Homo sapiens: one gene and its partner. The protein of the gene in region 2 purifies or fractionates together with the protein of the main gene of each other region. This does not show direct contact. Each region holds a gene or a part of one and is shown on either strand. Other genes may lie near its edges.

Evidence for each region. The genes of interacting proteins can lie anywhere in the genome.
Region 1: the proteins of ENDOV (region 2) and VWA8 purify together in Homo sapiens (affinity purification with mass spectrometry; 3 studies listed by BioGRID and IntAct, with this or other methods). This does not show direct contact.

The regions. Positions count from the first base shown.
Region 1 is NC_000013.11:41,569,723-41,573,109, reverse strand, and holds part of VWA8 (von Willebrand factor A domain-containing protein 8 isoform a precursor), read left to right. Parts: intron 1-2,403; coding exon 2,404-2,642; intron 2,643-3,387. UniProt on the Homo sapiens protein: Exhibits ATPase activity in vitro.
Region 2 is NC_000017.11:80,434,417-80,439,212, reverse strand, and holds the end of ENDOV (endonuclease V), read right to left. Parts: intron 3,081-4,796; coding exon 3,070-3,080; coding exon of another isoform or gene 3,015-3,069; 3' UTR 1,127-3,014; downstream 1-1,126.

The sequences.
Region 1 (3,387 bases), on a different chromosome or scaffold from region 2:
TGAAACGGTGTCTTGCTCTGTCGCCCAGGCTGGAGTGCAGTGGTACATTCTCAGCTCACTACAACCTGCGCCTCCCACACCCAAGCGACTCTCCTGTCCCAGCCCTCCGAGCAGCTGAGATCACAGGCGCATGTCACCATACCCAGCTAATTTTTTGTATTTTTAGTAGAGACAGGGTTCCACCATGCCGGCCAGGCCGGTCTCGAACTCCCGACCTTGTGATCTGCCAGCCTCGGCCTCCCAAAGTGCTGGGACCACAGACGTGAGCCACCGCGCCCGGCCTGTTTCTTTTTTTTTTTTTTTTTTTTTTTTAGTATTTATTGATCATTCTTGGGTGTTTCTCGGAGAGGGGGATTTGGCAGGGTCATAGGACAATAGTGGAGGGAAGGTCAGCAGATAAACATGTGAACAAGGGTCTCTGGTTTTCCTAGACAGAGGACCCTGCGGCCTTCCTCAGTGTTTGTGTCCCTGGGTACTTGAGATTAGGGAGTGGTGATGACTCTTAAGGAGCATGCTGCCTTCAAGCATCTGTTTAACAAAGCACATCTTGCACCGCCCTTAATCCATTTAACCCTGGGTGGACACAGCACATGTTTCAGAGATCATGGGGTTGGGGGTAAGGTTATAGATTAACAGCATCCCAAGGCAGAAGAATTTTTCTTAATACAGAACAAAATGGAGTCTCCCATGTCTACTTCTTTCTACACCAACACAGTAACAATCTGATCTCTTTTCCCCACATTTCCCCCTTTTCTATTCGACAAAGCCGCCATCGTCATCATGGCCCATTCTCAATGAGCTGTTGGGTACACCTCCCAGACGGGGTGGCAGCCTGGCAGAGGGGCTCCTCACTTCCCAGACGGGGCAGCCGGGCAGAGGCGCCCCCCACCTCCCTCCCAGACGGGGCGGCTGGCGGGGCGGGGGCTGACCCCCCACCTCCCTCCCGGACGGGGCGGCTGCCAGGCGGAGGGGCTCCTCACTTCGCAGACGGGCAGCTGCCGGGCGGAGGGGCTCCTCACTGCTCAGACGGGGCAGCCGATCAGAGACACTCCTCACCTCCCAGATGGGGTGGTGGTCGGGCAGAGACACTCCTCAATTCCCAGACGGGGTCGCCACCGGGCAGAGGCATTCCTCACATCCCAGACTGGGCGGCCGGTCAGAGGGGCTCCTCACATCTCAGACGATGGGCGGCCGGGCAGAGACACTCCTCACTTCCTAGACAGGATGGCGGCCGGGAAGAGGCGCCCCTCACTTCCCAGACTGGGCGGCCAGTCGGAGGGGCTCCTCACATCCCAGACGATGGGCGGCCAGGCAGAGACGCTCCTCACTTCCCAGACGGGGTGGCGGCCGGGTAGAGGCTGCAATCTCGGCACTTTGGGAGGCCAAGGCAGGCGGCTGGGAGGTGGAGGTTGCAGCGAGCCGAGATCACGCCACTGCACTCCAGCCTGGGCAATGTTGAGCACTGAGTGAGCGAGACTCCGTCTGCAATCCCGGCACCTCGGGAGGCGGAGGCAGGTAGATCACTCGCAGTCAGGAGCTGGAGACCAGCCCGGCCAACACGGCGAAACCCCGTCTCCACCAAAAAATGCAAAAACCAGTCAGGTGTGGCGGCGGGCACCTGCAATCCCAGGCACTCTGCAGGCTGAGGCAGGAGAATCAGGCAGGGAGGTTGCAGTGAGCCGAGATGGCGGCAGTACAGTCCAGCCTCGGCTTTGACAACTTTGGTGGCATCAGAGGGAGACCGGGGAGAGGGAGAGGGAGACGGGAGAGGGAGAGGGAGACGGGAGAGGGAGAGGGAGGAGGGAGAGGGAGACGGGAGAGGGAGACGGGAGAGGGACAGGGTTTTCTAGATATACAATCATATCATTGGTAAGCAGAATGACCGCTTTTAGAGTGCTCCCTGTCCCCAATTTTATGTGTAATTCATTTCACACACTTAAGCCTGCAACAGAAAAATGCACATCACAATTTTAAGTCACTTTCCTCCATCGTTATTGACGTGAGTACAATGTTTTTAGTATTATACCTTTGTTTATTGGAAACTCAACTCATTCCTTATTTTCCTCCTGTGTCATCTGCATCCTCCAATGTGATACCAAGTTTTATATTTTCTTATATTTTCTCACTTTAAGTGGAAGTGCAAGCTTCCACTTAAAACTAAGTGCCCACTGTGATAATTTTGGAATGATATCCTATATCTAATGAAATTCTATGCCAGATAACAAATATCACTGTATACTGTTGTCACTCAAATATGCAAATTAAATAGAACTAACTTAGAATGTACTACTCATGGGTAATAATTGGTATGTATGCATGCTCATGGTCAATAGAAAAATAATCGTATTTGTTAAAAAAGAAGTTTCTCAGCCATGGCTTTTGTGCAACTTCTTTTACCTCCAGACAATGCATGCCCACTCTCAGTTCTGCATGAGTGGGGACCACACGTTAGAAGGGACAGAACATGCCATCAAGGAAATTGTCAAAGAAGAAGCTGATGAGTACTTTGTCATAGTCTTGAGTGATGCAAATCTGTCACGATATGGAATACATCCTGCTAAGTTTGCTCAAATCCTCACAAGAGACCCTCAAGTAAATGCTTTTGCCATTTTTATTGGCTCTTTAGGTGATCAAGCAACCAGGTAAGTGTCATCTGAGCATACAGAAAAGGGCAGGTACAGAGATACTGAGTAGCTAACACATGCTGTTTTATAGGCTTAGCACCATGAGGGACAGTGAGGCAGATGGAGGAAAAACAGAAACTAAAGTTACTAGCCTCAAGGGGTTTATAATCTAGTTGAGGGGATATGTTCTAGCTTTTGTTTAGATGAACAATAATAATTTTAAATTAATTATTTTTTAGTTTATATTTAAGCCACTAATAAATCATTGACAAATTGATTTGTCACTAATAAACCGGGTAGTATTTTATACATTTGGCACTTTATGTCAAGCTCCTAAGCTCAGGCTAATCATTTTGTGTTCAAATCATATTAAAAATCGTGAACATCTACTATTTTCCTAGCATAGGAGATAGTGTGTGTGTATGAATGTCTGTACATATTAGACATATATATACACACATATGTATTATATCCCCATAGAGACATCACCTACATATATGCATGCCTGTATATATATATAGACACACTCACATGTATCCCTTCTTATTGCTGGAGAGACAAGGCAGGTGAAACACTTGGCGACAACATAAGATAATATACATATAGTTAGATACTACACTGAATATACTAAATATTCAATAGAGAATCTTATGATCAGACAATAAATACCAGTGGGTATGATCTGAAAGGAGAGATCTGGAAACACTTTCATAACTTGAACACAATAACATTTATCTTTTTGAATTACAAACAGAAAGAGCTC
Region 2 (4,796 bases):
AGCACACACAGCACACAAGTACAGAGGCCTTGGTCTGGAACCCAGGGCCCTGGTTGCCTGTGCACAGCCACTTCCACCAGGACAAGGAGCCCCAGGCCAGGCCCTTCAGGGACTCTTCCGCAGAGGAGGCAGGACACAGGCCCTGGGGTGGGCGTGTACCAGCTACCAGGGTGTGAGGGGCGAGGCTGGCTCTCCTGGAGCTCATGCTGCCCTTGGCCCTGGAGGACGGGGCCCCCATGAGAGGTGCGTGGCTCAGGTCAGATGCTGTGCAAGGGGCCAAGGCCCAGCTCAGACCCAGATTCAAATAGTCCAATGCCTGTGGCCAGAGCAGGGGTGGGGCTTGGGACAGCTAGGACCACCAGAGGGGCCCCTCCCTGGGGCCTGACCTTGGCCAGATCCTAAAGGACCACTCCAGCCCTGGTGTGTCTTCTGATCCTGAGTGCCACAGGAGAGGGGACGCAGGACAGCTGGGGTCTCAGAGGCTCCAAAGGCCAGGCCCACCTGCTTCTTGGAGTCTTTCCCTCCCAGCCTCCAGGCAGGGTGGGGGCCTGGGAAAGGGACACAGAGGCCCGCAAGTGAGCAGGAAAATCTATTTGGATCTGACTTGAATTATTAAGTGGTTCAAGAATATTCTTAGCTCTGGGCAGGCTGTGGTCTGTAGAGACGGACTTTACCACGGCCCTATTTTTAAAGTTCTGTGGGTCGGAGTCAGAGTCGAGACGTCACTGCACTTAGGGCCCCCCTGCACGCCCCTCTGCCTGCCGCCGGGGAGTAGGGTGGGGACAGGGCAGGGGGGCACATGCCAACCCTGCAGACCCCCACCCTGCAGGGGAAGGGCGTGTGACGCAGGGATGGGAAGTTGGGGCTCCCCCACCTACCAGGTGCCCAGGCCCACCCCTGCCCAGCCCCTGGCCCGTGAACCTGCTCCCCCAATTCTAGCCCCCCTTGACCCTCACACCCTGTTTCCCCTGCTTCAATCCCCTGCACTCTACTCCCCCAAACCCGCCCCCCTCCCCAGAGCAGCCTTGGGGAAAGGGGCTGGGCCAGCTCAGGGCTGCCACTGCACATCCCCACGGTGGGCTGGCATCTCTGCAAGATGCTTTTGACTGAAGAAAAAAAATCAAGCTTTTGAAGAATTCAAGTTAGTTTTATTCAAAGGTCTTACTGAGAATCCTAGACCCAGGTCCCAGCCCGGGAGCAGCCTTAGAGAGCTCCTGTTTGACTGCCCGGCTCAGTGTCTCGGCCCACTGCTTGGTTACGGGGGCCGGGGCTCAGGACCTGCACAGTCACATCCATCCAGCTGGCTCCGAAGTTACATTACAGCAGAATCACATCAAGGTTTGGGCATAAGAGCACTTCTGGTTACAGATTACAGAAGCATAATCGCTAACCTTGGCCAACATTTTCTCATGTGCACGAAAAGCCAAGGACCAGGGTCCTTCACCTTTTAAGGAATACAGTGACTCAGGCAACAGACGCGGGGCCGTGTGTTCTTTCCTGTTTTGTTTTCAAAGCGTCTCTCTGGAGAGCTGCAGTGTCACAGAGTAAGGGCCCACAGAAATGAGCACACACTTAGGTTTGCTGCTGACACGCCCTGCCTCTCCTCATGTGGTTCATGTGGCCATCAGCCGGGGCTGAAGACCCCTGGCACACACCTGCACCCCAAACGGACTACAGGTGCCGCTTTCATTTCAACTCTCACCCATTTAGGGTTCGGAGCCCCACACCCACTTAACCCCAAGCCCAGTGGCAAAGCTTCCTGAGAGGCCCGGAACCGCCAGCCATGAGTTCTACACCACCCCCACTGTCCTCCTGAAACCCTGCTCCCCCAAAGACAGGCCTTACTGAGGACTTGGTGGGGTGCTGGTCAGGAACTGCCCGGTCTTTGGGGAGGGGGTGCTGGCTGTCCGCCTGGGGAGAGCCTGGGAAAGGCATGCAGGCAGATGTGGTTGGAGCTCCGACTCTCTGACTCTTGGGCTTAGGTGAGTCCTCAGCAGGTGCCCTGCACTCCTGGTCCCCTTTCCCAGCCAGATCACTGCTCAGCATCTGCAGAGTCAAGGAGGACTCTCCCAAAACCATGCACGGCCAGATGGCCCAAGTTAAAAGAAGATGCCAGTGACTAAAAGCAGGAGTGAAGGCAGGGACGTTCTCAGAGACCTCACACACATCAATAAAATCCCGTGAACGACGGTATGCCAACAGATGAGATAACATGGACGAAACGGAAAAACTCCAAGAAACACACAAGCTAGCAACTGACTCAAGGATGGACAATCCGAACGATCTATAACAAATACATAGATTGAATCGAATCAAAATCCTCCCAAAGACCCAAGACCAGATAGGCTTACTGGCAAATTCTACCAAAGGTTCTAGCAAGAATTAACACCAATCTCTCTCTTCCAAAAAAAACGGAGGAGAGAACATTTCCTAACCCAATCTATGAGGCTAATATTATCCTGATATCAAAACCAAAGGAAGACATCATAAGAAAACACCAGACCAATATCCCTTATAAATACAGATGTAAAAATCCGCACCAAAATACAAGCAAATCACATTCAGCAGCAGAGTAAATGGATTATACACCATGACCGAGTTAGATGTATTCCACAAATGGAAACTGGCTCAACATATGAAAATCAATCAATGTAACACCTCATATTCACAGAAGAACACAGGATCTTTTCAATAGAGGCCAGAAAAGCATTTGACAAAATCCAGTACCCTTTAAGGATAAAAACACTTAACAAATTAGGACTAGAAGGGACCGTCTTCAGCTGGATGAAGAGCATCCTTGAAAATCTAACAGCTCACATCACATCTAGTGGTGAAAGACTGCAAACGTTCCCTTAAGATCAGGAACAAGACAAGGACGTGTGCTCTCACCACCACGTTCGATCAGGAACGAGACGAGGACGTGTGCTCTCACCACCGCGTTCGATCAGGAACGAGACGAGGATGTGTGCTCTCACCACCGCGTTCGATCAGGAACGAGACGAGGACGTGTGCTCTCACCACCGCGTTCGATCAGGAATGAGACGAGGACGTGTGCTCTCACCACCACGTTCAACAAAGTGCTAGACGTTCCAGCCAGAGCAATGAGGCAAGAAAAAGAAATAAAAGGCGTTCAGAGTGGAAAGGAGGAAGTGGAAATGGGCCAGGTGCAGTGGCTCGCGCCTGTAATCTCAGCACTTGGGGAGGCCGAGGTGGGAGGAAAGCTTGAGCCCAGGAGTTGGAGACCAGCCTGGGTAACATGGTGAGACCCTGTCTTTACAAAAAAATCTTGAAAAACTAGGCCGGACACAATGGCTCACGCCTGTAATCCCAGCACTTTGGGAGGCTGAGGCAGGTGGATCACGAGGTCAGGAGATCGAGACCATCCTGGCTAACACGGTGAAACCCCGTCTCTACTGAAAAAAAAAAAAAAATTAGCTGGGCGTGGTGGCGGGCGCCTGTAGTCCCAGCTACTCAGGAGGCTGAGGCAGGAGAATGGCGTGAACCCGGGAGGCGGAGCTTGCAGTGAGCCGAGATCACGCCACCGCACACCAGCCTGGGCGACACAGCGAGACTCTGTCTCAAAAAAAAAAATTAGCCAGGCATGGTGGCACATGCTTGTAGTCCCAGCTACTCTGGAGGCTGAGCCAGGAGGATTGCTTGAGCCCAAGAGGTCGAGGCTGCAGTGAGCCATGATCACACCCCTGCACTCCAGTCTTGGCAACAGAGCGAGACCCTGTCTCAACAACAAAGCAAAATGGTCTGGGACAACTGGCTACTCACAGGTATGACATGGGACCTGCTCCCTTACACCATACACAAATTTAAGTCAAAATGGATCAAAGACTTAAAGGTAAGAAGCACTAAAACTATACATTTCTTAGAAGGAAATGTAGGTGTAAATTTTCATGGCCTTGAATTAGTCAATGGCTTCTTAAATCTAACATCAAAAGCATAAGCAACAAAATAGATGGACTTCATCAAATTTAAAAACTTTCATGCATCAAAGGACACTAACAAGAAAATAATGACAACCCACAGGAAAAAATATTTGTAAACTAAAGAAGTGATCAATATCTAGGATTCAGAACATATAAAGAACTTCTGCAACTCAACAAGATGACAACCCAATTTTTAAAATGGGCAAAGGATTTGAATAGATGCTTTGCTCACGAGGATATACAAATGGTTACTAGACATGAGAAGGCGCTCACCACCATTAGCCATCAGGAAATGCAAATCAAATGCACAATGAAATACCACTTTTTTTTTGAGGCAGGGTCTCATTGTCACCCAGGCTGGAATGCAGTGGCACAATCACGGTTCACTGCAACCTCAACCTCCTGGGCTTAAGTGATCCTCCCACCTCAACCTCCCGAGTAGCTGTGATTATAGGAGTGCATCACCATGCCTGGTTAATTTTTTAGTTTTCTGTAGAGATGAGGTCTCACTATGTTGCCCAGGCTGGTCTCAAACTCCTGGGCTCAAGTGATCCTCCTGTCACAGCCTTCCAAAGTGCTGGGATTACAGGCATGAACCACTCACTGTGCCCAGCCGAAACACCAGTTTCTACTCCAAGGAATGGCTAGAATCTAAGCGGCAGATAATAGCAAGTGGTGGTGAGGGTGTGCAGAACCTGGAACCCTTGGGCATTGCTGGTGGGGATGTGAACTGATGTAGCTGCTATGGAAAAGTCTGGCAGTTTCTCAGAAAGTTAAACACAGGGTCACCACATGACCCAGAAATTCTACTCCTAGGTATATATACCCAAGGCAACTGAAAACATGTTTACACAAAAG